2 separate regions of the Homo sapiens genome follow, and region 1 is linked to region 2. Evidence: fine-mapped expression QTL. A gene starts in region 2. The other region holds a variant in brackets. All regions are shown on one strand. Distances are between the middles of the regions.

Evidence for each region. PIP is the estimated chance that this variant, and not a neighbour inherited with it, causes the effect. A credible set is the group of variants that fine-mapping cannot tell apart.
Region 1: its variant is the best candidate, but not a certain one, in a credible set for the expression of RNF157 in whole blood (INTERVAL, PIP 0.70).

Annotation. Positions count from the first base shown.
Region 1 is chr17:76,160,500-76,175,834 of GRCh38, forward strand. RNF157 (ring finger protein 157) reads right to left here. Exons shown (of 19, transcript NM_052916.3): 3 at 13,203-13,291; 4 at 7,152-7,298; 5 at 6,510-6,627; 6 at 5,962-6,028; 7 at 5,003-5,046; 8 at 4,249-4,296; 9 at 2,053-2,124; 10 at 1,344-1,503; 11 at 1,036-1,148. Among named protein-coding and RNA genes, the nearest start is that of FOXJ1, 27 kb to the left of the region's middle. RefSeq lists an enhancer at 6,314-7,513. The variant C/T (reference allele first, on the strand shown) is at 8,609.
Region 2 is chr17:76,232,513-76,247,847 of GRCh38, forward strand. RNF157 (ring finger protein 157) reads right to left here and starts at 7,981. Exons shown (of 19, transcript NM_052916.3): 1 at 7,641-7,981. The coding sequence starts at 7,728. LOC105371896 (a long non-coding RNA gene) reads right to left here. Exons shown (of 6, transcript XR_007065913.1): 6 at 8,350-11,982. RefSeq lists an enhancer at 6,949-7,621 and silencers at 7,926-8,065, 8,086-8,155.

The DNA of each region.
Region 1 (15,335 bases), 72 kb before region 2:
AATGGTATTCTCATATTTGCATATCATTGATTTTTAATGTGGTTGAACTTTTTAAAAAATTCTATGTTGAGTGTGTTTTGTTTATGCCCTTTGCCCTTTTATCTACTGTTTTATTCAATATGAACTATGGCAAAGACATTAGCTTTTCCTCTGATACACACATTGTAAATAGTTTTTAAAAAAACACTATTTGTTGTCTAACTTTTAATTTTGGTTACCTTTTAGACCTCTGAAGTGCTAAACTTTTTAGGTGGTAAAATGTATGGTTCTTGCTTTCAAGCTTAGAGAATCCTTTCCAATCCAAAGTCAACTAAATAATCATCTATAATTTATTCTAGATTTTGAATGTTTTGCTTGGTTTGCTGTAATGTTTGTTTGGTTTGATGCTCTTAATATAGTTAACTAGTTACTCCAGCTGGAATTTATTTGGTAAGGAGTAAAGTGCTAAACTAATTTTTCCTCCTGAAATAGCTAACTAATTATCCCAATACCATTCACTAAATAATAATCTCTCCCAGCAGTGCGTTAGTCTAAAGAAAGACAGTATCTGCTGCTCTCTAACTGCAAAGCTTTGAGGTTTCACCCTAATATCAGCACTTACACTAGGAAACTGAAGTCAGTTACTTTATCTCAGGCACTGAGGCCACAAAACAGGATAAAGAAAAACAGTTACTTTCTTCGAGGATTCAAATAAAGATAATAAATTGTATTTAAATCCAAAATAATCGTCCCATTGTTTCTGCCTGGGGGAGTTCAAGTTGAACCTCACTGGAGTGAAACTGCAAGCAGATGGCTCTAGGAATGGTAAACATTAACTGGACACCAAGTTCCCAAGGAGGAAAAGGGAGGTTTTCAGTATTCAATTTTCCACAGTAATAAGTTGGTTTTAACGCATGCTCTCAGCCGGCTTGCTAAATACTGCAGCATGCCCTGGTCTAATTCCTTGCTGCAATGCCACGTAGAGAAGCATGAAAAGTTTAAAAAAGCCAATGAGGCATTTGCTTCAGAGGGGCCGTGGTTCCGAGCCCAACTTACTGGATGCTCTTCAGAGTCAGATGTCTGGGATGAGATGATGGGGTTAAAGCTGGTTGGGGACAAGGGGCCCAATTTTTTCCTCATGGCTCGGATCTGAAGCAGTGCCCGGAAGGCTGTGAAGGAGAAAACAGGCAATCAGGACATCCTGATACAGGATTAAGAATGAACAAGAGCCCAGACAGAAACCATGATCCCTCCCAGCGCGCATCCGTTTGTCAGATCCAGCAGCAGCACATGCTTCAGTGTTTTGTAAATGTCCTCTTGTCCCCTCTCCCACCCACCAGTCCCCCTGCCGCTCTGGGGCTTACGCAGTCGGCAGATGGGGCAGTTGTTGGCCTGGTAGCGCAGCGTGTCTGCACAGGTGTTACAGAGGCAGAGGTGGCGACAGGGCAGAATCAAGGTGTCCCGGACATCCGAGAGACACACCACACACTCGGCACTGTTATCACTCACTTCGTCTTCAGCCACCTGGCCAAGGAGAAAGAAATGTAGCCAATGGCACAAAGCCCTTCCTGTCCCATACTTTACTGACAAGGCAGCGTGGCTGAAGAGCTAAGATAAGTAATAATTACGAACAAAATCTGCATTGACATTGGACTTTGTCATTTTCCCAGTGCGTCCACACACTTAGCTTCACTTCTTCTGGGAAGTGTTTATCTAAAATTGAGAGGACGAGACTAACCACTCGAGCTCCTCCTATAAGGCCCAGAGCTGGGCCTCTCAAATCTCAGCTGAAGGGACTTAGGGGATCACACAGATAAAGGAAAAGGAGCAAAGAAAGGGCCCTGGTGGAAACCGAGTTGGACAGAGCTCTGTGGCAGAACAAAGCCAAACCAGCCTACTTTTCTCATTTCCAAAGTGGTAAAAGCGTAATGATCTGAAATGAGGAACAAGAAAATACCCTTCTAAGACCTAACTGATTTCAGAGTTTGGCACGCTAAATTTCTGGACGCTGGCTTACGATTTCTCACTTGGCCTCCTGGAAAGAGTACATTCAGAATTTTGGGTAAAACTTACCTTAGAATCTTGTGTGTTGTACTTGTTTTCAATTCCATAGATCTCCTGAAGGAGGTAGCTGACCCCGTCTACCTGAACAGCAAACAGAAAGGTTCAAGGACAGGCTGTCTCTACTGAGAGACAAGAGTGGGAACTCCCTCCAATCTTACCTCTTTTGGTAACCAAGGACTACCGATTCATAATGAGAAAAAAAATCAAAGGCCTGGATAAGTAAAAGATGCTTTTATTTACTTATGTTTTCTCTTTGAGAGAAGAAAGAAAATCAAATATTTAATTCACCCATCATTATATACAACAGGGAACATAAAATTTCACAAATACAATAATAATACTTGCACTGCAGCATACTATTATGGACAATTAAGAAGGCACAGACTAGAAAAAGGATGGAAGGGCATGCATTAAAATCTAGGCATTTGCTATATAATCCAATTTGAGTTCAGACATTATACAAATAAAGGAATGGAAAAGAGAAAGAAAAAGAAGAAGAAGTTGGCAAGGAAAAAGATGGGAAGGGAAAATATGGATGCAAAGGGCGATAGCAAGACCTTGAGGGAGAGGCTAATGGTGTGTACCCCACACCATGAAGCCACCCCATCCCCAACATGCAGCAAAATTACACCTCTTGGCCCTGTTTCCTTTTTTTTTTTTTTTTTTTTGAGATAGGGTCTTGCTCTGTCATCCAGGCTGGAGTGCAGTGGCACCATCTTGGCTCGCTGCAACCTCCACCTCCTGGGTTCAAGCGATTCTCCTGTCTCAGCCTCCTGAGTAGCTGCGATTACAGGGTGTGCACCACCATGCCTGGCTAATTTTTGTATTTTGTGGTAGAGACGGGGTTTCACCATGTTGACCAGGCTGGTCTCAAACTCCTGACCTCAAGTGATCCACCTGCCTCAGGCTCCCGAACTGCTAGGATAACAGAGATGAGCCATCAAGCCCGGCCAGCCCTGTTTCTTAAAACCCCAACTACCAAGGCCCAATCCCACTCCCATTAACCTGGGCCATGTCAGTGTCTAAGTTGGCCCTGCCCCATTTACTTTTAGGAGCACACTCTTCTGCCTCACCTCTGTTTCTTAGCCATCCCTTCCCCTAAGACATAGCCTGTCGCTGATTTTATATCCCACTCTCCGTTTTAACAGTCTGTTGCTAATGCCAATCTAACAAGAGGAAAATGGACAAACCATCTTCCTCTAGCTACACGAGCCTTTCCATCCCATCCAGGCCTCCTGGAGAACCAGGCCTTCCCCCATGAGGCAACTCACCAAGGCCTGGCCTGCCCAGGTAGTGCCCTGGGCCTGAGCCCAGGATCTGTTTCCTCCTCTGCTGCTCTTAAAACTTGTTTTCATGCAGTGATTATATTGGAAAACTAATTTATCCTAAGATATTCTTATTATTGACCTCATTAAAAGAGAGGCGAGTAATTAACCTAAAAGAACGAACAGTGTAGAATTTCAGGTATCTATCACCCATCTACAGGAAGGCTTTTCTTTGCATCTCGAGGAAGCCCAACCCTGCCTCCTACCCAGCTGCTCTACACCCTCCGTGAGATGACCTGCCCCTCACCCACCCTCCCTTGCCAATGCCACTGGCACCACTCTCTCTCCTCCCAGTGATGTCTCCTCCTACCTCTACAAGAGTGGAAAGAAAAGTGCTGGCACATGGTAGGGGCTGGGACTTTCTAGCAGACATATGCACAAGGTGCTGATCATTCTGGAAGAGGGAGAATGGATGGCTAACTTTGAATTTTAGAAAAGGAATGGATAAATTAAGCCAATGACTCTAATTACACTAAATTGGACCCTAATGCTTTATCCTTTCGCTTGAAATGTTTCTCACTCTGGCATTTTAAATAAAAAGAGTTCTCCCTAAACCCAATGTTGGGAAATAAATCTTGTTCTTTCATTTCTCAAGTCCTTTGCTCAGATAAAGGCTCCCTCAACACCAACACTTCTGGAACAATGAAGACCTCAAAAATCAGCATTCCTTTCAGGCCACCCAAGTCGTTTGTAATAGCTTGTAACATTCAAAAGCACTCCCTTTTTTTCTTTTCTTCTTTGATTAAAAAAAAAAAAAGAGGAAAAGGAGAGAGCAAAAAGTAAAACAAAAATAAAAAAAGAGGGAGAGAGAAGAAGAAAGGAAAGAATAAAAGGAAGGAAGGACCCTAATACTAACAGTCTGTGGTCTTCAAATACTTACTACTTGTTTCTGTTTGAGGGGCTTGACACAGAAAGTTCCATCTGTGTGCTGGAATGAAAATATGAAAGTTATGACAAGGAAGGGAGGGTAATAAAGCACCAGGTATTCTTCTGTTACATCTCCCAGTTACAGTCGCCCTCCCTGATCTGCAGTTTCATTTTCCATGGTTTCAATTACCCGCCATCAACCACTGTCTGAAAATATTACATACAATATTTTGAGAGAGAAAGATCACATTCAGACTTCTATTACCTTATAGTTATAATTGTTTTAGTTTACTATTATTCTTAGTCTCTTACTGTGCCTAACTTATGAATTAAACTTTATCATAGGTGTGGATGTAGTATGGGAAAAACCACAGTGTATATGAGGGTTCTGTACGATCTGCAGTTTCAGGCATCCACTGGGGGTCTTGGAACTTATCTCCTGAGGATAAGGGGGGACTACTGTACACATGTTCCTGGACACTCTCAGAGCAGAATTATACAATCCTAATTCTTTAAAGGTCTTATAATTATCCAGTCTAGCCTTTCTTTCTTTTATTTATTTATTTTTTTTGAGACAGAGCCTCACTCTATCGCCCAGGCTGGAGTGCGGTGGTGCCATCTCAGCTCACTGCAACCTCTTTCACCATTATAGCCTCTAAAGCCAGACCCATTCTGCTGAGCTCAGGCACCCAGCAAACGGGTTACATGTGTCTCACACGAAAGAAAGGGCTAAAGGCAATAAAGCGAGGCCCTCTAAAGTCACTCACCTTCTCAAAAGTACCCAGCAGTACATGGCAATGGCCAAAATACTCTGAAAGAAACAAAGGCACGTGAGTGAAGAAGCCCAAACAGCACATCTTGATGCCCATGACTTTCTCCAGTTCCCTGCAATCTGGCAAACCAAATGTGCCAGTCTGTCTCTAGAAGGGGCACGTTATATAACCCATACTTTTTTTTTTTTGAGACAGAGTCTGGCTCTGTTGCCTGGGCTGGAGTGCGGTGGCATGATCTTGGCTCACTGTGGCCTCCGCCTCCCGGTTCCAGCAATTCTCCTGCCTCAGCCTCCCAAGTATCTGGGATTATACGCATGAGCCACCATGCCCGGTTACTTTTCTGTATTTTTAGTAGAGACGGGGTTTCACTATGTTGGTCAGGCTGGTCTCAAACTCTTGACTTCAGGTGATCTGCCCGCCTCAGCCTCCCAAAGTGCTAGGATTACAGGGATGAGCCACTACGCCCAGCTAAACCACATTTTTTTGAGACTGAGCCTCACTCTGTCACCCAGGCTGGAGTGCAGTGGCACAATCTCGGCTCACTGCAACCTCCGCCTCCCAGGTTCAAACGATTCTGCTGCCTCAGCCTCCCAAGTAGTTGAGATTAGAGGTGCACACTGCCATACCCAGCTGATTTTTGTATTTTTAGTAGAGACAGGGTTTCCCCATGTTGCCTAGGCTGGTCTCGAACTCCTGACCTCAGGTGATCCACCCACCTCGGCCTCCCAAACTGCTGGGATTATACGTGTGAGCCACTGTGCCCAGCCAAACCCACACTTTTCACATCAGCCCAGGAGCTTGGAGTCACAGATGTGAGAGGATGCAGAGACTGCCTGACTCACAGTCACAAACACCCACAAAGAAGGCATGTTGTTCTGGGGCCACAGCTGCTGCCAGGAATATGCCACAAAAGAGCAGTGTGCACAGCCAAAGAGGACAGAAATCGCCCCTACCGTCTCCTTCATCCACCACGGCATGTACCACTAGAGGGTAAACTTCTCGGTCTAAATCAAAGCCAAGCTGAAGGGAAAGAAAAGGAAAGGAAAAAAAAAGAGGACTTAACACATTTACATGGCACAGCTAATCTCAGAAAGGGCGATACTGTCAAGAAGCATTAATCTCATCTCTGCTCCTCATTCTTTAGCCTTGTTAATTACCCAAGTTTGTTAACTGAGGGCCATCAGCTGCTTTTTAAAAATGTCATAGATGTAAATAAGAACCTCTAACCTATAGATTTTTTTTTTCTTTGAGCATGGCTTTCTCAAAGTATCCTAGGCTAATGGGCTATTTCCATTCCTAGGGAATGGAAAAATTAACAAAGTTAGGTATATCCTTGATGCAAAATAAGCAGAGCTTTAAAAGGACATGATGAAGTCACAAGGCTGAAAGGTAAGCATGGCCTTCAAGCATCCGAGCAGCCCCTTTGCTGTCAGACCGAGTCCTAAGTAGCCCCTAGGCCCTTCTGAGTGGATGTGGGAAACCCTCCCCAGAGGCAGCTCACCTCCTCTTCGGCCCACTCGGAGGGATCCACGGTGTGGGAGGGCAGGCAGAACTGCTGACACACTCCTCGCTTGTACTGCACAGTCTCCGACTGGAGGCTGTTGTCTTTGGGAATGTAGCTATTGATACAAGTGGGAGGCAAAGCAAAAGTCAGTATCCGGCACAGATGGGTCTGACAACTTCCTCTGCTCATGCCTGTTCTCAATTATCAACAGGGTCTAGCGAAGAGAAGAAAGGGTCCTTTATAATCCATTTCCTTTGCTCTTGCTTGGCAACGTTAAACTTTTCTATTCAACCCACACATCCAAAGAAAGGTAGCTTACTAGATTTTTAACAGCATGTTAAGGACCTGAAGGACTATACCACCATTTGTCACTATACCAAGATGGCACAATTTGAAGGGAAAAGGTAAAGGGTAGGGCTTTGTAGAAGAAAGTCTAAATTCAGGAACCAGATCTCATCTGGCTGCAGAAAAAGAATGTTTTCCGCCCTTGCTGAGTGGATAAGACATGGACTCTCCCTATCTGGGAAGGAAGTGGCTCGCCTGGTCTCCTGATCTTACCTGGTAATACCATTCTGGAACTCTTCCGTGGCCTGGTAATAATCTGGGAAGGAAGTGGCTCTCCTGGTCTCCTGATCTTACCTGGCAATACCATTCTGGAACTCTTCCGTGGCCTGGTAATAGATGGTGATGGCTACCCGAGCATCTGTGTCAAAGGTGAACTCAACATTGTAGTGGACTTTAGCTTTACTGGCCTCTTCTCCAGGGCTCTTCACTTCCTCAGCACATCTAGAAAACCAGAGACTCAGCATTTGCAGAGTAGCATATCAATATTTTAAAATTTACCTTTAAAAAAATTAGCAATATATTGTGGGCTTCTCTGAATGATCATAAGCATAGGTCTACCTCTTCATTCTGAATGATCACAGAGTGCTTCATGACCCATGTTGCTGGGCATTCAGGTTACTTCTGGTATCTCATAGTGCTACCACTACACCATTGTGCATTTGGCACTTTTGTTTTTATTTTAATAAAAGTTATTAATCACATAGTTTAAATAGTTTCCTCAAGGCAAAAAACAGCAGGCCTTACTTCTTCCCTTTCCTCGTCTTCAGAGGACACCCCTTTTAGTGATCATTTTGGCATTTACCCACGTTTCTAAAAAATATACTTGGGTTACTACTTCTTGATTTTTCAGTTTCAGGCGCTATCTATGGGTTTCCTACTATGGAAACAAGGATTTCTTTCTCTTTCCTCACTGTGCTCCATGTAGGAACTCCGCCATCCCCCCAGTGTAGCTGCATCATGATTTTATTATAATAGTCCAGTACATTTGTGTCTGTATTACTGTGATTACACAAACTTATAATCTATGATTATTTTTCTTTTCCTGCATAACTTTTTCTTAGTGCTCATCCTATTTTTTTTTTTTTCTTCCAGTTGCGTAGTTTCCTATGTACTCATCACAAATTCCAACCCAAGCTCTCTGGGGCTGTCTAAATCTCTCAAGACGTTCAGATGCACCAAGCGGTCTATTCATTTCATCTTATTGAGGAGGTCCCTTGGACTTGCTCCCATCTGTACTTGGCCCTCTGCACCTGGCTCCCAGTCGCCACCCTGGAATCTCTCTCCCCCTCCAACATCCTGGTGGGTCCCTTTTGCCTCTGTCCTCCTGTAGAAGCTCATGTTTCCTGCACCTCAAGTCTTCCTCTGTCTTGGGTTATTCTTTCATATCGGTGGAGCACGTGTCCTGCCAGCTTCCTGAAAAAGGGTGTGTTGGGAAATAAACTTTTGAGAGCTATTATTCAACATTCACACTTCACTGAAAGTTTGGCTGAGCAAAGTATTCTAGATTATAAATAATTTCTAAAAGACACTGAAAGCCTTTTCACTGCCTTATTTTTCACCTCCCAGCGTTGCTCCCAAGAAGTCTGAAGTCGTTCCAACTGTTGATCCTTCTTCTTCTGAAAGCTTACAGACGGTCCTCTTTCTCAGCCACTGTGTGGGCACTTGGTGGTCCTTTCCATTTAGAAACTTGTACCCTCTGGTTCTGAGAAGTTTTCTTAAATTCTATGTCACTGATGATTTCCTTCCTTTTA[C/T]ATTCTCTGTTCTCTGTAGAACCCGTTAGTTGGATGTCAGACCTTCTAAATGGGTGCTCTATTACTTGCGTCTTTCTTCTTCTATTTTCCTTCTCTCTGGATTTTTGCTCTACTTTCTAGAATATTTCAAGTTTTCTTCCTATCATTCTATTGAAATTTTCATTTCTGCTCCCTGTTTTTAATTTCTAAAAGCTATTTTTTTGGTTTCATAAACACTTTGTGTCATTGTGTCCATGAAAGAAAAAGATAACTTCTCTCATGTCTTTGAGACTATTAATGAAGTTTTCTTCTTCCTGCATAGCTTTTGTTTCCAATTAGATTTTTTTTACTTTATTATTATTTTATATAGAGATGGGGTCTCACTATGTTGCCCAGGCTGGTCTCAAACTCCTGGGCTTAAGTGATCCTCCTGTTTTGGCCTCCCAAAGGTCTGGGATTAGAGGTGTGAGCCACCACACCCGGCCTAGTTAGGTTTTTTTTTTTTTTTTTTGAGATGAAGTCTTGATCTGTCACCCAGGCTGGAGTGCAATGGCACGATCTTGGCTCATTGCAACCTCTGCCTCCTGGATTCAAGTGATTCTCCCGTCTCAGCCTCCCAAGTAGCTGGGATTATAGGCGTGTGCCACCAGGCCCAGCTAATTTTTTTGTATTTTTGTAGAGATGGGGTTTCTCCATGTTGGCCAGGCTGGTCTCGAACTCCTGACCTCAAGTGATCCACCCGCCTCACCTTCCCAAAGTGCTGGGATTATAGGCGTGAGCCACCGCACCTGGCCTAGTTAGGTTGTTTTAAAATGTTGGTTTGTTTTGCTACTGTCTTTCCTATTATAGGCATTCCTTACACATCTAAGAATCTGTGGCTGTCTGCTTGTATTTAAGATATTTAAACTGCTGATTAGAGCTCTGAGTGCACAGCAGGACTTGGGGATCCTGGGCTTCACTGTGGGCTGACCTGGATCTGTTGAGGAACCTCTAACTCTAGTCTCTTAGGTTTTCCTATCCAGGCAGGTCCAATTTCCAGAAAACAGTTTTCCTCTCTCTTGACAAAGGCCTGGCTGCCAGCATTCTAGGGGCAGAATGGAGAGGCAGCTGGAGGGCTCAACATCCAGTATGCCAGGATCCACTCACCTGCTGTTTTGTTTTGAGACAGGGTCTCACTCTTGCCCAGGCTGGAGTGCAGTGCTGTGATCGTGACTCATTGCAGCCTTGACCTCCCTAGGCCCAGGTGATCCTCCCACTTCAGCCTCCCAAGTAGCTGGGACTACAGGTGTGCACTACCATGCTTGGCTAATTTTTGTATTTCTTGTAGAGACAGGGCTTTACCATATTGCCCAGGCTGGTTAGCCTGTTTTTAGTACTGGCCATTAGCTGTGCCTGGGTCTCTCTTGTCCAGAGATTCTCTGTTTTGACCTTTCCAGGGAGAGTCATCTGCCTGCCTTTGGCCAAGGTGTAGGAATGTAGTTCTGGCTGTGTGGTACAAGGGAGAGGATCTGCCTACCTTGAAGGCAGACTTTCTACCAATCCTCTTCATTTTAGCCTCCCACCTCAACTTCTAGAGGGACCTGGCACTGCTAATTTCTGAACCCTTTGGGGGATAATATCACAGTATAAATTGGGTGATTCTCAGCTTTTCTTTCTGCTAGTTCAGGATTCTGATTTCCTGGGTCTACTAAGTCATTTAACGTTCACTATGTGTTTCCAGCTTCTAAAATGTTGTTGCTGTTGCTCTCTTCCCATTCTCCAAATATTTACAGATTTATGCCTTTTTAAAGAAATTTTTAAAATTTTTTATTTATTTATTTTATTGAGATGGAGTCTCACTCTGTCGCCCAGGCTGAAGTGCAGTGGCACAATCTCGCCTCACTGCAACCTCTGTCTCCCGGGTTCACATCATTCTCCTGCCTCAGCCTCCCAAATAGCTGGGATTACAGGTGCCTGCCACCATGCCCGGCTAATTTTTTGTATTTTTAGTGGAGACGGGGTTTCACTGTGTTAGCCAGGATGGTCTCGATCTCCTGACCTCGTGATCCGCCCGCCTTGGCCTCCCAAAGTGCTGGGATTACAGGCATGAGCCACTGCACCGGGCCTTATTTTTTATTTTTTAGTTGGAGTCTCACTCTGTCACCCAGAGTGGAGTGCAGTGGTACAATCTCGGCTCACTGCAACCTCTGTCTCCTGGGTTCAAGCAATTCTCCTGCTTCAGCCTCCGGAGCAGCTAGGATTACAGATGCGTGCCACCATGTCTGGCTAATTTTTGTATTTTTAGTAGAGACGGGTTTTTACCATGTTGGCCAGGCTGGTCTTGAACTCCTGACCTCGGTGATCCGCCCGCCTTGGTCTCCCAAAGTGCTGGGATTACATGCATGAGCCATCATGCCCGGCCAGATTTATGCCTTTTAAATACATGTTTATAATTACTTAATGGGGTTTTCAGAGGAAGCAAAAGTAGGTGTTCAATCCTCCATCTTTACCTGGAAATCCGAGAATCAGAATTTATTCCCATAATCACAGAAAAACAAAACAAAGAACACCCTTCAAGTTAACATTTATTGAACACCAGGTGTTTTCCCTTCTGTTACCTTAATTTTGACAACCACCATGAAAGGTAAAGTTGATTATCACCATTTTACAGATAAAAGAACCTGAAGCTCAGACACTCATTCAAGCAAGCATCTGTGGACCTGGGAGGCAAACTGCTCTGCTGCTTCCAAGTCTGGTTCTTCTAGCGCATGACAGCTGCTTCATCCTATTCTAGAGCTGCAGCCAGGCTGCCACGGCAGAGGCTATGACCTCACAGCAGCTCAGGCCCTTGAATGGTCTCCATCAAATGTGTGAATGTGCCATATGTGATGAGAGAAACCAAGTGGACAGAGTAGCTGGCAATGGCAGGCCCCAGAGGCCTCGTTAGTCTGCTCTGCTGCTGGATGAACTCCCCTGGGTCAGGTCGGGGGACTGTTCTGCAGCAGACAGGTACCTCCTTGAATCTCTCCTCCCCAGAGTTGACCCTGGGGTGGAGAGAAGCATAGCTGGGGAACCAGCAGAAACTTCAGGGACAAATAAAATATAAAAAATTAAGAGAGAGAAACAGAAAATAGATTAGTGGTTACTTAGGGCTGGGAGGACTGCTTGAGCCCGGGAAGTTAAGGCTGCAGTGAGCTGAGATCGTGCCACTGTACTGCAGCCTGGGTGACAAAGTGAGACTCTGGGCCAGGTGCGGTGGCTCACGCCTGTAATCCCAGCACTTTGGGAGGCTGAGACGGGCAGATCACCTGAGGTTGGGAGTTCAAGACCAGCCTGACCAACATGGAGAAACTCTGTCTCTACTAAAAACACAAAATTAACCGGGCGTGGTGATGCATGCCTGTAATCACAGCTACTTAGGAGGATAAGGCAGAAGAATCCCTTGAACCTGGGAGGTGGAGGTTGCAGTGAGCCGAGATCGCAGTGAGCCGAGATCGTGCCATTGCACTCCAGCCTGGGCAACAAGAGCAAAACTCCATCTCAAAAAAAAAAAAAAAAAAAAAAAAAAGGCGAGACTCTGTCTCAAATATATATATATATATATCAGACAGAAACATTGTAATGCTAATAAGGCTGTTCTATACAAGCATGAGATGGTCTCTGAGTCATCTTCCTTGCCTATTCAGAAAAATCTGGGACCTTGATTTGCCCTAACCAAATTTTTTCACCAGAGAATCAGACAGCCTTGGTAGACATATCATCTAGGGGTGGCGGGCAGTGGGAATGTATCAGACTAAAAATTACACTGTCTCAAGGATGGCACCAAGAAGGCAAATGACGATAATTAACATTGATGATGAGGATTAAGCAACCAACCCAGTGCACTATGAGTTCCTTAGAGAACAGACACATGATATAGGGAATAAAAAAGAAAAAGAAGGCTGGGCGCGGTGGCTCACGCCTGTAATCCCAGCACTTTGGGAGGCCAAGGCAGGTGGATCACGAGGTCAGGAGATCGAGACCATCCTGGCTAACATGGTGAAACCCCGTCTCTATTAAAAATACAAAAAATTAGCCGGACGTGGTGGCGGGCGCCTGTAGTCCCAGCTACTCGGGAGGCTGAGGCAGGAGAATGGCGTGAACCCTGGAGATGGAGCGTGCAGTGAGCCGAGATTGCGCCACTGCACTCCAGCCTGGGTGACAGAGCGAGACTCCGTCTCAAAAAAAAAAAGAAAAGAAAAAGAAAATATAGCAATAAAATAAAGGATTTGATATTCTAAGTTCAAATTTCCCATTTTTACATTGGCTTGTTGGAGTAGCTGCAAAAATTCCCATTTTCCCTTAATAATTCTTCTTCCCTTTTAAAAAATATCCATAAAATAAGGATACTAAGCATTTCTAGGCAAGCGAAAGTTTTTCACAAACACAGACGATTGCATCCAGTGCTGAACAACATGGGTGTGGACGGCCTGATCTCAGCAGAAAGTAGCGCCCGCACTCCTGTCTGAGGCCCAGAGAAGCAAGCTCTGGGGCTGCCGGAAACTGCTGTATGAGTTCCTTGGGAAGTCTGTCCCCCAGCCCCCAGCCTCCCCAAAGGAAGGTGCCTGGGACCTGGCCCCAGCCTCTGGGAACTTACTTGACGAGCCTCAGTGTGTCCTTTCGGATATTGACCAGGCTTCTCAGAGTCTTCACGGGTTCTTGGGGAGGTGGGGCGGCGTAAGGAAACTGTGTCAGAAACAAAGCAGGAGAAGGTGGTGTGTTTAAAAAGACCCACAGCTGTCCCTCGCTTTACAGTTTGCCAAGAATAGCCCTAAGAGGTGAGGCAGGAAGGCACAACTCTCCTAATTAAGTGAGGAAACTGAAACTCCGACATACTGAGTCAACCTGCTCAAGGTCACAGCTAGCGGGAAAACTGGGATGCAATTTGGGGCCCAAAGAGCCAGATTTATCTTCTTTTTCCATTATATGAAGCTTATTTCGGTCAGTGTTCAAAACCTGGAGAATTAATAATAAAAAAAAAAACCGCTGAAGTTCCAAATACCAAAGGACACACTGTGGCCGAGTTAATCACAAAAGGCTTTTCCATCTGACCTCAGACGACAGGGAACCAGACCTGCAAGCCCTTTCCTTCGGTGAGGCCATGCGGTATCCCAGGAGTTTAGGGACCGCAAATAAAAGAGGGCCCCATCATGTGTACAGAGCTGAAGTTTGCAAACAGTAAAGAACAAACTTCCCCTGCAGCTGATCATATAAAGCAGAGCTCTTTAACATGTGAGCCAAGAGTTATTTTGGGGTCACCAAAGGTTTATGGTTGTCTTCATCATTTACCATCCGCTTCTTCCCCCTTTGCCCGTTTAGACCTTTGGATTTGAAGTTCTGAGTTGTTGATAATGATGAGATAAAGAAAGGGGAAATAGCCAAAAATTTCACTGGGAATTGCCTTCTGAGGATCAAGAATGATTTCAAATGTTCCCGGTATTTTTAAAATGTTATTTGGGCAATCAAAATGTTTTAACATATAATTCCCAAAAAACCTACTGGTCTCTGCAGCTTTGCAAAACTGTGGTTCTCTTGGCTCAAGAAGAGTCTACCTCCATAGTGTGGTATCACAAAACAGGACACCCAAGTTATAATCAAATTGTGCCCTCACAGGTTTTTATTGAATATGGTTATTTTACTTGGGAAACAATATAGTTAAACCATAGTTAAGGTGCATCTGACTTAATGTACGCAGTATAATTGCTTATAATTCACAGGTATGAATGTGACTCTTACATTCAATAGAAATTATCTTCATTCAGATTACTCACTTTGTGGGCATGATGCAGTAATTTACTTTTTCATTGATATATTAACCATACATTCTTTTAAAAATGATAGTTTTTTCTAATTACAAAGTAATATATGTTTAAGCAGAAAACTTGAAAAACACAAAAAAGTACAAAACTATCCCTAATTTTACTACTCGGCAATACCAAAATTAACATTATGGAATACGTATCTCCATCCGTCCGTCTATCCATCCATCCTGTCCACCTCTATATCTATGTGCTGTTTCACACTGAACATACTATTTTGCAGTTTCTTTTTCACCTAAAAAGATGTGGTAAACATTTTTAAAGTCCATAATTTTGATAACATTGCAGATAATAGCATACTTTAATCAATTCCATATTATTCAATATTTTATGTTGGTTTTACTTTTTTTCGCAGCTATAAATGTTGTGGTGAATATCCTTGTCCCTATATTTCTGCATGCTTGTTTGATTATTTCCTAAGGACAAATTCCTAGAAGTGGAATTACAGGATCAAAGAGTAAGCATATTTTTAAGACTTTAAAAATTATTTTGCCAAACAGTTTTCCACAAAGCTGACTCCAACTTTGCCCTCCTGCAAGCAGTGCATCAGGAGGCCTTGACATGGTAAAACTGAAATTCTAGTTCAGATCCCATCTGTGGCCTGTTTCTCCTCCCCCAACTTTCCTAGGCTGTCATACTAAAGGAATTTAAAACAATTTTTAAATAAGCTTAAGCAAAAAGTAATTAGGCAGGAAAATCCGACACAAACGCTAGTCTATTCTAAAGCCAAAATAAATGACTTTGGGATTAAAATTTTTTTCTGGAGTAGCAAAGTTAATCATTTTCATTTGTACAGGTACTTGGGCGTTATCCATAACTCCTACCTGCATTTCAAAAAAAAGATGCGTCTTTTCCCTTATTCTTTACTCTTTCTCCTCCATAGCCACTCCCTGCCGCAAAAGAGAGAAAAA
Region 2 (15,335 bases):
TTATTTCCAGTTTCTTGGCTATTATGAGCAATGCCGCTATGAACATCTGCATCCATGTCTTTGAGTGTACATATGTTTTCATTTTTTTGGACAGATTCATAGGAGTGGAACTGCTGAATCATAAGGCAAATTTATGTTCCACTGTTTAAGACACTGTCCAACTTTCCAAAGTGGCTGTACTATTTTACATTTCCCATAACACTTCATAAAGATTCCAATTCCTCTGCATTCTCAACATTTGACACTGTCTGCCTTTTCTATTTTAGTTATCCTAATTCTAATAGGTGTGAAATGGTATCTCATTGCAGTTTTAATTATATTTCCCTAATGGCTGCTGATGTTGAGTATCTTTCCATGTGTTCATCAGCCATTCCTACATCTTTTTCAGTGAAGTATCTATTGAAATCTCGCATATTTTTTTTTTTTGAGACACAGTCTTGCTCTGTCACCCAGGATGGAGTGCAGTGGCCCAGTCTCCGCTCACTGCAACCTCTGCCTCCTGGGTTCAAGTGATTCTCCTGTCTCAGCCTCCTGAGTAGCTGTGACTACAGGTACCGGCCACCACGCCCAGCTAATTTTTTGTATTTTTAGCAGAGACAGGGTTTCACCATGTTAGCCAGGATGGTCTCGATCTCCTGACCTCATGACCCACCTGCCTCAGCCTCCCAAAGTGCTGGGATTACAGGCGTGAGCCACCGTGCCTGGCCTCTTGCACATTTTTTAATTGGATGGTTTGTCTCCATAATATTGAGTTGTAAGAGTTCTTAATATTGATACACATCCTTTATGTGATTTGCAAATATTTTCTTTCAGAAAGTGGCTTGTCTTTTCAACTTTTTACTGTCTTTTGAGGTGGTAATGTTTTTAATTTCGAAGAAATCCAATTTATTATTATTTTTTACTTGTATGGATTTTGCTTTTGGTGTCACATCTAAGAACTCTTCGCCCAATCCAAATCAAATAACATTTTTCTCCTATGTCTTCTTTTAGGGGTTTCATTGTTTTTGCATTTATGTCTATGATCCATTTTTATTTTTTTATTAGTGACAGGGTCTCAATCTGTCACCCAGGCTGAAGCGCAGTGGCACAATCATAGCTCACTGCAGCCTTGAAATCCTAGGCAAAGCAATCCTTCTGCCTCAACCTGCCGAGTAGCTGATATCATGCCACCATGCCCAGGTAATTTTTAAAAACAATTTTTGTAGAGACAGGGTCTCACTCTGTTGCCCAGGCTGCTCTTGAACTCCTGGGCTTAAGCCATCCTTCAGCCTTGGCCTCCCAAAGTGCTGGGATTACAGGCATGAGTCACCATACCCAGCCCCATTTTGAAAATAGCTTTGTGGAGATACAATTTATATACCACAGAATTCACCTATTTAGTGTGTACAATCCAATGGTTTTTAGTATATTGACCGTGTTATACAACTATTCACCACTATCTAATTTTAGAACACTGCCATTATCCCAAAAAGAAATCCATTAGCAGTCACAGCTCATTTCTCCCTCTCCTCAGCCTCTGGCAGCCGCAGGCACAGCCACTGCGCCACTGCCACTAATCTACTTTCTGTCTCTGTGGATTTGCCTCTTCTGGGCATTTCTTATAAATGAGATTATTCAATAGATGGCCTTTTGCACCTGGCTTATTTCACTGAGTATAACATTTTCAAGGTTCATCCAGGTTGTAGCACATATCAAATCTTCATTCCTTTTTATTGCCAAATAATATTCTATTGTGCAGACTTACCATATTTTATTTATCAGTAGTTCTATTCATCGGTTGATGAACATTTGGGTTATTTCCACATTTTAGCTATTATGAGTAATTCATGTGCAAGTTTTTATGTGAATGTATTTTCTTCATTTTTCTTGAGCGTATACCTAGGAGTAGAACTGCTGAGTCATCTAGTAACTAGCCATCTGAGAAACTGTCAAACCGTTTTCCAAAGTGGCTGCCCCATTTTACATTCACACCGGCAGGGTATGAGGGTTTCGCTCTCTCCATATCCTTACCAGTACTCGTCATTATCATTTTTTAAAATTATAGCCATCCTAGTGGGTGTGAAGTGGTATCTAATTGTAGTTTTGATTTGTATTTCCTTGAAAGTTAATAATGATCATCTCTTCAAGTGCTTATTGTCCACTGTATATCTTTTTTGGAGAAATGTCTATTCAAGTGCTGTGACCATTTTTAATTGGGTTGTCTTTTTATTATTGAGCATATGAGTTCCTTATATATTCTAGATACAAATTCTTGTCATACCTATGATTTATAAAAATTTCTCCCATTCTCTGAGTTCTCTCTTTTAACTCTATAATCCATTTTGAGTTAATTTTGGTGATGTAAAGAATAGGTCTGAGTTCATTTTCTTTTTTGCTCATCCCAGCATCATTTGTTGAAACCACTATCCTTTCCCCATTCAATTGTCTCGGTACTTTTGTCAAAATCAACCGAAAATAAATGTAAGGATTTCTGGTTCATAACTCTGTTCCACTGATCTATATGCTCTTCATTGTGCCAATACCACACTATCTTGATTACTGTGGCATTATAGTAATTATATGCATAGTAACTTTTAAAATAGGGTAGCGATAGTCCTCCAACTTTGTTCCTTTTTCAAAATTGTTTTGGATATTTTAAAGTGTCAAACTGTGCCAACCAAATAATTCCTTATTTTGTAGTAGGTTACTTTTTTTTTTTTTTTTGAGACGGAGTCTCGCTCTGTCGCCCAGGCTGGAGTGCAGTGGCACGATCTCGGCTCACTGCAAGCTCCGCCTCCTGGGTTCACATCATTCTCCTGCCTCAGCCTCCCGAGTAGTTGGGACTACAGGCTTCTGTCACCATGCCTGGCTAATTTTTTTGTATTTTTAGTAGAGACGGGGTTTCACCATGTTAGCCAGGATGGTCTTGATCTCCTGACCTCGTGATCTGCCCGCCTCGGCCTCCCAAAGTGCTGGGATTACAGGCGTGAGCCACTGCGCCCAGCCGTAAATTGCATATTTTTAAGTGTATGGTTTCAAATCTAATATTAAATTGATACTCCTAAAGCTAGGAGAAACTTACATTAAAACTTTTATAGTTATTCGACAAAGACTTATTATCCATGCCTTTAAAAACTGTTCTTGCAATAGGAAAGACCCATTTGACAAGAATATGTGTACTCTAAAATAACAAAAATTTGGAGAATGATGATGTAGACAGATGTGATACATCTATGGCTGGGTACGGTAGATCACTTCTGTAATCCCACTGCTTTGGGACCCCGAGGTGGGAGGACTGCTTGAGACCAGGAGTTCAAGACCAGCCTGGGCAACACAGTGAGATACTGTCTCTACAAAAACTTTAAACATTAGCCAGGCATGGTGGTATGTGCCTGTAATCCCAGCTACTGAGGAGGCTGAGGCAGGAAGATCGCTTGAGCCCAGGACTTTGAGGTTACAGTGAGCTTTGATAACACCACTGCACTCCAGCCTGGATGCCAGAGTGAGACCCTGTCTCTAAAAATAAATTATTTAATTTTTTAAAATCTACAATCAGTTGACTTTAAGTAAAGGAGATTATCCTTGATTATGTGGGTGGGCCTCTAGTCAGTTGAAGGCCTTAAAAGCAAAAACCCGGGTTTAACCAAGCTAGCTGGTCAGGACTCTGATTACCATTCTGAATTTCTGTAGTAGGTTTACTTCTTAAAGACTTCAGCAAAACAAATTATTCCTATTTTCCAACTTGCCCAAGTATGTGGAGGGAAACAAACTAGATTTATGAGGTACTGCTTTATATAAATTAAACTGTCTTTATATTATGCCTATTTCTTCCTGGATAGAGAAAACAGGCTTTTATCAATGTGGACTTTTATCAACGTGGATACTTCTGTCAAAAGATGAGCTTCATAAAAGCAACCATCTCCGCAAAGCCATACCTTTCTTTGCTAAACAAATGATCTTGGGCTTTTAAAGATGCAAAGATCTTAGAGAAGCATGTATGACTTCTAACTCAAAAATTACAAAAGTACATCCAAATACAGTAGAACCGTGCTCTAAATTGCTTTCTATGCTAATGTAGAAATGCTATACAGAAACTCCCACCATACTTTCTATTACTTAAATGATTAATATTCACACAATTATTAATAAATCTAAAAATCACCTAATGCATAACATTATTCATTGTTGCACTGTTTGCAATAGTAAGATACTGAAAAAACAACTCACAGATGTTTATCAACAGGAGACTATGTAAAAAAAAAGATGGCATATGCATGCAGAGGAATACTATATAGTTGTTAAAAAGCACAAAGAAACTTATCAAATATGAGACAATATAAAAAGATCTCCAATATCTCTGAAAGCAAACAGAGCAAGGTGTAGAACAGTCTAATAGCATGCTATGCTTGCATTTACACAAGAAACTCTAAAAGAATTCCAAAGAAACCAAAAGTGGTTACATGGGATGGGAGGTTTAGAGGGAGGAAGGAGAACCAGGTGGATGGACAACAGCGGTGAGAACAAGGCTTTCACTGTACACGTTTTCATTCTTTTAAAGTTTGAACCGTGTGACTATATTACCTATTCAAAAATAAATAATTCTAAATAATTTAGGCTATTTATTTCTATCTACCTCTATTTAAGGATAGAAAAAAGCTACAAACCCAAGTCTCAACTTGAAATCTGCCATTCTTGATAGGATTTAAATGTTTGTTTCAATGTGCATACAAAACTAAGAAGTTCCATTAAATATACTAAGAAAAAAGCAATTTCAGCTGGACACTGTGACCGTCATTACAAGGACAGATGATGGTGCTTCTTTCCGAAACAACTGTTCCACCGGCAGTGCAGGTCTAGCCGCTTTCCAGCGAGCCAGATAGTGGTCTCAACTTAACACTCAAACTACAAGGTATGTCATCTGGAGAAAGCTGACTCTGCCACTTGCTTTGTTCCACTGTTAGTACTCAGGATAAGGAGACTTCTCAAAATCAACCCAGGTTGATTCCTCTATAGGGACTTCAATTATGACACGAAATAGCCTTCATTCCATAATCATGGAATGATTGTTTTAAGTCTTGTTTTTTGAGTACAAGTTCAAAACCCAATTCCTTGAGAGGTGGAGGCAGACAGTATAGTAGGAAGAACACTAACTGGCTGAGAGACCCTGGCCATACCAATTCATTTCTCTGGGTCTCCATTTTCTTATCAGTGAAATGAATGGGAGGCCAAGGCGGGAGGATTGCTTGAGACCACGAGTTCAAGACCAGCCTGGGCAACATAGTGAGAGAGTGTCTCTACAAAAAACTTGCCTGGGCGTGGTAGCTCACACCCGTAATCCCAGCACTTTGGGAGGCCGAGGCAGGCGGATCACCTGAGAGGTCAGGAGTTCAAGACTTGCCTGGCCAATATGGTGAAACCCCATCTCCACTAAAAATACAAACAATTAGCCGGGTGTGGTGGCAAACACCTGTAATCCCAGCTACTTGGGAGACTGAGGCGGGAGAATTGCTTGAACCCTAGAGGCAGAGGTTGCAGTAAGCCAATATTGCACCACTTCATTCCAGCCTGGGCGTGACAGAGAGAGACGATGACTCAAAAAAAAAAAAAAAAAATTAAACATTAGCTAGGCATGGTGGTCATGGCCAAACTCTGTCAACGGTTCCTTTCAGGACTAATACTGTAATCCCATAAAGAGCCAGGTCAATTCAAAGATCAGAAGAAAGGCGATGCCTCCGTCTAGAGCATATATGCAAGCTCACATAAGGTTTCAAATACACAAAGGTTTGCTGACAGAGACAGGATGTTCTGATTCTATTTTCTATGTTTTAGCTTCAACAGAAATAATGTGGTCCACTTGCTATAAAGACTTCTCTCATGTATAACTTCTGATTTAACATGAATTACAGTTTTACAGTTAAACTTTTAAAACTGGTAGAGAGGAGAGGATTATTTATTGAGTGTGCTAATTAACAAAAGTTTTGGTTTGGTCTATTGTCTTTTTATTATCATCACCCAAGATTCATACTTGTACAAATATGCTTTGGGGAACAGCCTTCCAGAGGTTTACCTATGTTAAGTCCCACATATGAAAGAGCGGTGAATACTTTCCTGAGGCAGCAAACACTATTGAAAATTCCAAGCTCAGCAAAGTATGCTCCATATTTTGATCAATAAAAGCCATGTGGTTTAAGAAAAACAGAGCCCACAAATACTGCTGCATATTTTTGTCTATTTTAAAAAGTTTTCCTCATGCCGCCCTAAGAATATTTTTGTCTATTAAAAAACAAAATCTATGCCTTGGTTAGCGTTGATTTTATGTAGTCATAATCAGTCAGAGCTTTATTAAAATACTAACGACCCACAGCTTTATCTTAGACCTTTCTAAAACAATTCTTCACCATATTCATCTTTGCAAGGATTCATTCTTTGGTACAAAAGCAGTGAGAAACACAGCTCTGGCAGACACTCTGCAGGGATGCGGGCAGGTTCATCGTCTGGCCCCTGCTTTCACCTGGCAGACACTGGACACACTGCTGAGAAACCAGCTCATCTCAGTATGTCTCTATTCTACCAAAAAGAGACGAGGCTCTGCTCCAATTCTGACACCTCATTCCGAAATCACCAAAATCTCCATCGGGTCCTAAGCAGACAGAATGTCGCAGCCATTCATCCTCAGAAGTCTTGAGAATAAAATTAAAAGTAATTAATTAAAATAAAACTACTTGCAATTAAAAGTAAACACCGGCTAGGTCATGCAATTCATACTGGCCGGTGCTCACATAACTGAACTACCTTGTGATTCTCTGCTTTGCTGTCAAAATCCTCCTCCACCTCCAATGCTGATACCACAATCCAGAGGCTAGAGACATTTAAGTGAAGGGATGATTCTAATAACAAACATACTTCTATACGTTTCCAATACCTCTGCCCTGTCCCAGAGCTGGTCCCACTCCAAAACCCAGGCTTGCCACTACGCTAGCAAAGGGGCAATCCGAGTAACTCTGATACTCAGATTCCCAAACATTTCTGTTACTTTCCACCACCACCACCCCCCCCACCCCCCGGCTTCTGACAGCCTCTGCAAAAGCACCAGCACTGCAAATGCCTGTTTGGCTTCCATCCTTCAGCAGGCAATGGAAGCTTTTCCAGGAGAAACCTAATTCTAACCTTTCCAGAGGCCAGGAGACGGCAGCGCAGGGATAGCACCTGGCGCAAGTGCCTGTTTGGATGCCGAGGTCGCCTCCCTCGCGGCCCTCGGACCCCGCGAGGCAGGTAGGCTTTGGGCCGGGCCGGCCGGGTCCGTGCGGGGCGCCGACCTCGCCTACGACGCCGCAGCCCCGCTCCCCAGGAGCCTCGGTCCCTGCGGGCACGCGTCCCCGTCACGGGGCCGATTACAATGGAGGCCGCTCCCGTCCTCCCGTGGAGGGGCTCGGTGCCCTCGGTGACCCTGCTAGACCCGGCAGGACGCCCCTTGGGCTAATTCGCCCGGGGCGGGGGAGACCTCGGCCTTCTCGAAGACCTCCCGCGCTCGAAGACCGTTTCGGAGCGTCCGCAACCACTGAGTCCCCGAAGACCCGCGGGGCCCCCTCAGGCCGTCCCGACCCAGACCCCTGCCCCTGCCCCTCTCCCTCCTCGCGGCTGCGGCGCCCGCCCGCCCTCACCGGACTTGGGCGGGTAGCGGTACACGGAATTAGACGGGATGTCCACCTCCTCCACGCCCGCGTGCTGCCGGCTCGTCAGGGCCCCCATGGCCGCTGCGGCTGCAGCCCCGGCCCGGCCCCGGTGCCCGCGCCGCCCTCCGCGCTTCACCGCGGCCGCCCGCCCCGCGCCCGGTGCGGGGGCCGACTGCCCGCCGCGGCCGGCTCCGCTGCGGCGCTGCGGCTCTGGCGGCGGGGAGCCCCCGGCGCGCCGCGCACCATCCTCCGCCGGGCACCGCGGCGGCGCCTCTGCCAAGGGGGCTGCGGGTCTGGGCCGGGGGCGCCGCCGCCGCCTCAGGCCGCGTGATGTCAGCGGCCGCTCCGCGCGGGGACCGCGGCGGCCCCAGCCAATGGCGAGGCGGGGCGGGAGCGCCCGCGCCGGAGCAGCCAATGAGCGCGGGACTGCAGCAGGAGCCGGCGGCGCGTGCCTCGCGCGGGGAGCCGCGGCTGGACTCGGCGCGCGTGGACGCGGCCCAGGGCCTCGCGGCGGGGGCGTGGGCGTGGGCGGGGACTCGCGACGGGGACGGGGGCGCGGCCGGGTGCCCGCGGCGGGGCGGGGCGGGACCGGCCGGAGCTGGGACCCCAGGAGACGAGCGCTGCACCCGGCCGGGACGCGTCGCCCCTCCGCGCCTGTTTATCCCGGCTCGGATTACCGCGCAGGGAGCCGCCCCCTCCCGCGGTCCGCGAGGACTGGCCGGGAGCTCGCTCGCCATTGTCCTGGGCGTCCCAAAGCGGGCGGTCCCCGCTCCGCTGCTCCCGCGCCTGGAGGAAGCCTTCCCAACCCCGCCCCTCAGCGTCGGCCGGCGGAGGTCTTCGGAAATCTCATGCAGGGGGGTAGGGAGAGGGGTCCCACGGTGCATTCGCATGTCTCCTGCCCCGTGTTAATGCTGGTGACCGGCTAGGAAGATGCCGCCTCCCTCTCACGTGCGTCTATTCAAAGCGCTCCCAACTCTATACATGCTGTTTAAGGCTCCTTGTAGCCCTAAAGTTAGGAGAACATCGACTGAGGATAAGATCAAGACATCCAGCCTCTGTCTGTATCGTGGAAACGGGACCCCGGAAACTTTGGAAAGGCCTGAGTGCCAAGAGAGTCAACGCAGGCGAAAGCGAACCGGGCCAGGCAGAACCGGGAGCTCCTGTTGATAAAAACACACACAACAGTGGGAAGCTTGGGCCGGCGGAAGACGTCATTCCATTGCTTAATTACAGACATTTGTGTTTTAAACCTTCTATTTTCTTTGTGGGTCTGGTGTTTTTTTTCCTGAGAGAGTGGACTGATCAGCAAACATTTCAACTGCTAGAACATGACTTTCACAACTTTTCAACAGTGTTCGAAGTACAGTTTGGGGTGTCTGGTTCCCTTGATTAGGTTTGTAAAGCTATTTTACGGAGTCTAGGTCTTTCCTGGTTATATTTTGTTTTTGTTTTTCTGTGTTTTGAGACGGAGTCTCCCTCTGTCGCCCAGGCTGGAGTGCAGTGGCGTGATCTCAGCTCACTGCAACCTCCGCCTCCTGGGTTCAAGGGATTCTCCTGCCTCAGCCTCCCGAGTAGCTGAGACTACGGGCATGTGCCACCACACCCGGCTAATTTTTCTACTTTTAGTAGAGATGGGGTTTCACCATGCTGGCCAGACTGGTCTCCAATTCCTGACCTCCGCCCCCCAAAGCGCTGGGATTACAGGCGTGAGCCACCGCGCCCGGCACATTTCGTATTTTTCATTGCCGTCTTTTCAGCAGCAGCCAACAGACCTGATGCTAAGTGCCTTGGTTTCCTCCAGGGTCCTCAGGATGGTGGGAACACATCCCTGTCATTTATATTGGCTGCTGCTAACGAAGGCTTGGGTTACAGGGCAAGTCCCTGCCCCGGCAGCTTCTCCCAAGCACCAGAGCTCTCTGGCAGAGTCCCTGGTCCTAACTACTCCAGGGCTTTCAGTCATCCCTGTGGGAGGGAACTGGTGTCCTCCTCCATACTCCTTTCAGCACACACAGGCCCTACCTTGTAACTGCTGGGTAAAGGTAAAATGCAAATAAGAATCTAGAACCACCTCAAAACACAAGGCCTTCGACACATCACAGAGTAAAATGTTGCCTTATGCTCCTCGGCTCTGTTCAGAAGCCTTGGTTCTTCCTGCCCTCGGCATTTTGTAAACGGGACATCCCTTCCCTTTGTGGGTTTATCCATGTCTGAGAGTTTCTTCTGCTTAGCCAGGGCCAGGCAGGGATGTGGCTTAGTCAAGCAGCCCAGTCCTGTTGCTTATGGGGTGTCTCTTCTGGTCCCACCTTGGCCTGACCCTGGGAAGCCAGCTTCTCCATCTTGAATAATACTCCCCAAGCCTAGAAGTTGGTTCCTCCTCCCACGAAGGAGTCATGAGTCCAATGCTTAGAATAGTAAAGAAAAACAAGGCATAGCACAATAAAATTAGTGGATATTTATGGAACACTCTATGTGCCAGGCTGTTTTAAACACTTCACACGTATTAAAGCATTCAACCCTCCCAACAACCCTATCAAATACATGCTATTTACACCCCGATTTTACAGTCGAAGAGAATGAGGCACAGAAAGAGCACTAGACTTTGAGTTGGACAAATCAAACCCCTAAGCAGCTATGTAACTTTGACTTAAGCCCTTAGAAACGGTCTCCGTTTCCTCCTCTGAAAATAGCCCAGTCTCCAATGGTTATTGCAAAGATGCAATAAGTGAATCAAGACTCTTTTGTTTTGTTTTGTTTTTGAGACAGAGCCTCACTCTGCTGCCTAGGTTGGAGTGCAATGGTGTGATCTCGGCTCACTGCAACCTCCACCTTCCGGGTTCAAGTGATTCTCCTGCCTCAGCGTCCTGAGTAACTGGGACTACAGGCGCCCGCCACCACGCCCGGCTAACTTTTGTATTTTTAGTAGAGATGGAGTTTCACCATGTTGTCCAGGCTGGTCTCCAACTCCTGACCACAGGTGATCCGCTCGCCTTGGTCTCCCAAAGTGGTGGGATTAAAGGCGTGAGCCACCACACCCAGCCAAGACTCATTTTTAAAAGAATGTTGACCAGAGACAGAAGAGAAACGGATAGAAGGCAGTTTAGAAACTTCTAGATCAAAGAGACTTTTTGTGAATTGAGCTACAGTCCCACAGTCTACAGTGTAATCACCTAGTGTGAACAATTTTGGAAATAGAATCTCAGCCAGTGCCCTGGGCAAAGGCGAGATAAGCAGCTAGACCCTCGGAGCAGCCGACTCTAGAGGGGCTGAGTCCTGCATTCCTCTATGGTTCTTCCCTGGCTCCACTTGGCTCCCTCGCCAAAGATCTGGGCCAGGGAGAGTGCCCGAGGGAGAAGGCAGCTCAGATAGGAGGAAAAATCCAGAAGTGACTGCACCAAGAGAGCCATAAAAATGTTTTTAACTTGAAAAATGGTCTGGGGAGGGGTTGCACAGTGTGCATAGGGAAATCACATGCAAATACCACACGTGCTTTGTGGAAATAGCCTTGTAGCACCCTATCCATTTCCACACTATGGATGCAGCCCTTGGGAGAATCCCAGCAGACAACACAACATCCAAGGGTCTCAGCGGTTTTCTCTAAACATCCCTGGAAGGCAAGGGGCAAAGCCAGGTATTTCTATCACATTGAAGCTCTTCTTCTGCAACTTGGGTCTAAGGGAGAAAGGAGAAGGGTGGGGGAAGTACGGGGACAAGTAATTTTTAGGTGAGCTTGTCCCTTTGGACTTTTCATTTTGTTCATGTTGCTGTCCTGGTTTCAGCCCAGATGTGCCATTTCCACCCTTGTAACACATGCAATGATTAGCTTAGTGCAGGAAGGAGTGAGGGAGCCTGCAGGTGGAAACTGACAGACACAGCCCTGCAGCACAGCATTCCTGAGGCAGCAGGGTTTGGGAGGCAAACCAGTATCTCAGGTGACCTGAAAGAGCTAAGAAAGGTCTCTGATTTTGGGACAGGAAGATGAGAATCTTGGCTGTTCTTAATGAGTACCAGCTCTCTCCAGAAGATAGGGCCCAATCAGCCACACATGGGCCCGATCCCTCTTTTAGTCCTCGACATGTGGCTTCGGTGGATTGAAGCCAAAACCACCAGCGGAGAATGTCACATCCTGCTCCAGATCAGTGGGCTAGGCTAACGTCGACAGAATAGTCTGATCCTAAATGCTTTGGGGCCCTGCAGATGGTTCCTCTGGCAACCTAAGGCTCTCTGTAGAGGAAAATAATCTTGTCCATTAGGAAATCCGCAATCAGGCTTTCATATTTTGCTTTTTGCTGAGTGTGAATTCCTCATTGTTAATTTCGTCCTCCACTCTGGGCTGCCAATAAAGAAGAGTTGTTCAAATGGATGCAGACTCCAGTCCAGTTTGTAGCCTATTAATCTATTTTTCAAGTTAAGACTAAAATGAAAGATGATGTTTACACGGCCCAATGTGTTGGGGATAAGGCGAAGTGAGTGGGGCACCCAGAATGTCAACTTTAAGTTCTCATTCTCAGCCACGCACAGTGGCTCACACCTGTAATCCCAGCACTTTGGGAGGCCAAGATGGGCGGATCACGAGGTCAAGAGATCGAGACCATCCTGGCCAACCCCATCTTTACTAAAAATACAAAAATTAGCTGGGCATGGTGGCACGCACCTGTAGTCCCAGCTACTCGGGAGGCTGAGCCAGGAGAATCGCTTGAACCCGGGAGGCGGAGTTTGCACTGAGCTGATATCAGGCCACTGCACTCCAGCCTGGCAACAGAGCAGGACACCATCTCAAAAAAAAGAACAGTTCTTACTCTCAGTGTCATGCAATTGCCTCACCTGCCTCACTCTGGTTCCAGCCCTGCTGCCCAGGCATCTGGCATTGGAGAAATGAGGGGCCCAAGACTCTATTTATGTTTACAGACTAGTTTGAAGAAATTGGGAGAGTCTGTTCTATTTTTTGTTGTTTCTATCAAATACCAGACCTTGTAAGCTTGGTTCTACCTGTTCACTTCTGCCTTCATTCTCTTCCTTGTTGGTCCTGCTCTTCTTTTGGCTTTGAGCTCACTCCACCTGGGACTACACATTCTGCATCCTAAAGTTGGTGTAAAAAGAATGTGCGGGCTGGGTGCAGTGGCCCACGCCTGTAATCCCAGCACTTTGGGAGGCCGAGGCAGATGTATCACCTGAGGTCAGGAGTTTGAGACCATCCTGGCCAACATGGTGAAACCCCGTTTCTACTAAAAATACAAAAATTAGCCAGGCGTGGTGGCACACGCCTGTAATCCCAGCTACTCGGGAGGCTGAGGCAGGAGAATCGCTTGAACCAGTGAAGCGGAGGTTGAAGCGAGTCCAGATTGCGCCACTGCACTCCAGCCTGGGGCCACAGAAGGAGACTGCGTCTCAAAAAAAAAAAAAAAAAAAGTGTGAGGCTAACATTTCAGCTTGGCAGGGCAGGCCTGGTAGCTCACACCTGTAATCCCAGTGCTTTGGGAGGCTGAGGTGGGAGGATTGCCTGAGCCCAGGAGTTCAGCACCAGCCTGGGCAACATAGTGAGATCCTATCTCTACAAAAAAAATATTTAAAAATTAGCTGTGCAGGCCAGGCGCGGTGGCTCATGCCTGCAATCCCAGCACTGGGAGGCTGACGCGGGTGGATCACGAGGTCAGTAGCTCAAGACCAGCCTGCCCAACATGGTGAAACCCTGTCTCTACTACAAATACAAAAATTAGCCAGGCGTGATGGCGCGCGCCTGTAATCCCAGCTACTCAGGAGGCTGAGGCAAAAGAATTGCTTGAACCCGGGAGGTGGAGGTTGCAGTGAGCAGAGATGGCGCCACTGCACTCCAGCCTGGGTGACAGAGCAAGACCCTGTCTCGAAAAAAGGAAAAAAAAGAACATTTCAGCCCAGCATCGACTCCAGCTGCCCTTCTTGGAGAAACAGACCAGACCAAATAGGCACAAAGCCCAGCGTCTGCCTCTTGCTACCTAGAAAAGGTAGAATGTGGAAGCGGCAGCGTGGTGACAGCCCCAAACCTTTCTTTAACAAAACAAATACTCACCTGCGGTTACTTAGATCAAAAGAAGAAAATAACAAACAGGGTTTCTTGAAAATGCCTGTCCTGGCTAGATGGTCAGATTTGGAAGGAATCTCAAAGGTACAGCCCCTCCCCTGACAGATGAGGCAGCTGCAACCTCTACAGGGTAAGGGGCTTGCCCAAGACCATACAAGTGGTAGCCATAGCTCAGAACCCAGGGATCCCTGGCTCCCTGTGCACTGGGTCTTGATATGGGAAGCTGGTGCTATGCTGGTTTTATCTCTCTCTGTCTCTCCTTGGTGAGCCATCTCCTACAGCTGTCATAAGAGGACAAGCCGACTTGAGGTTGAGCTCTGAAGCTCAACACAAGTGCACACACGTGTTCAGCTGTTGCAATATCAGTGTGAGCATGCAATCAACTGCACTCACAGGAAAGTTGTCTGTAACTGTGCTCAAGTCAGAATCAGAAAACCACTGAGCTCCTCTCAGCTGGAGACTCCCTGCACCCTCCCTCTGCTCTTCTGAAACTGGAGCTGAGGTCAGGGCTGCAGAACTGAACTGATCAACCAGTCACCTAACTCCTCCCAGGCACAGGAACCAAAGGGCTGCTGAGAAAAGAGAAATGAGAGGCCACTGAGGGTTAGGAGATCAGATTCTTAGCAAGTAGGTTAAAAGTGCCGTATGCATGCTAATAGTGTGTCCAGCTAAAGTCTGAGTGCCAGCCAAAGTCCACTACAGACAAGCAATTTGTTTACAATGACACATTTATTTCTGAGCAAATTGCTTGTTTATTTATGTGATAACTACTATCCTATTAGGGTATTTCAAAGACTGTGTGTTGATCCTGACAAAGTAATAAACAGAAATACCACTCACTGTTATGGTTCTCACAGTAAGCTATTGGAAGCCTTAGGTCTTTTTTACGCACCATGAGGTATATATTTATTACATTGTTAGCCGTATCCTGTTATCTTTTTTTTTTTTTTTAAGATGGAGTCTCTCTGTCACCCAGGCTAGAGTGCACTGGCCTGATCTCGGCTCACTGCAACCTCCACCTCCCAGGTTCAAGCGATTCTCCTGCCTCAGCCTCCTGAGTAGCTGGGACTACAGGCGCACGCCACCATGCCCAGCTAATTTCTGTATTTTTAGCAGAGACGAGGTTTCACCATGTTAGCGGGGCTGGTCTTGAACTCCTGACCTCAAGTGATCCACCTGCCTCGGCCTCCCAATGTGCTTGGATTACAGGCGTGAGCCACCACGCCTGGCCCTGTTATCTTTTATTTTATTATTATTTTTTATAATAATAATATATAATAAATATCTTTGTTTATAAAGATATAAATATAATAAATATAATAAACATATTTATTTTTTGTTGTTGTTGTTGTTGAGACAGAGTCTCATTCTGTCGCCCAGGCTGGAGTAAAGTGGCACGATCTTGGTTCACTGCAACCTCCGCCTCCCTGATTCAAGAGATACTCATGCCTCAGCCTCCCAAGTAGCTAGCTAGGATTGTAGGCATGCGCCACCACGCCCAGCTAACTTTTTGTATTTTTAGTAGAGACGGGGTTTCACCATGTTGGCCAGGCCAGGCTTAAACTCCTAGCCTCAGGTGATCCACCTGCCTCGGCCTCCCGAAGTGCTGGGATTACATGAGTGAGCCA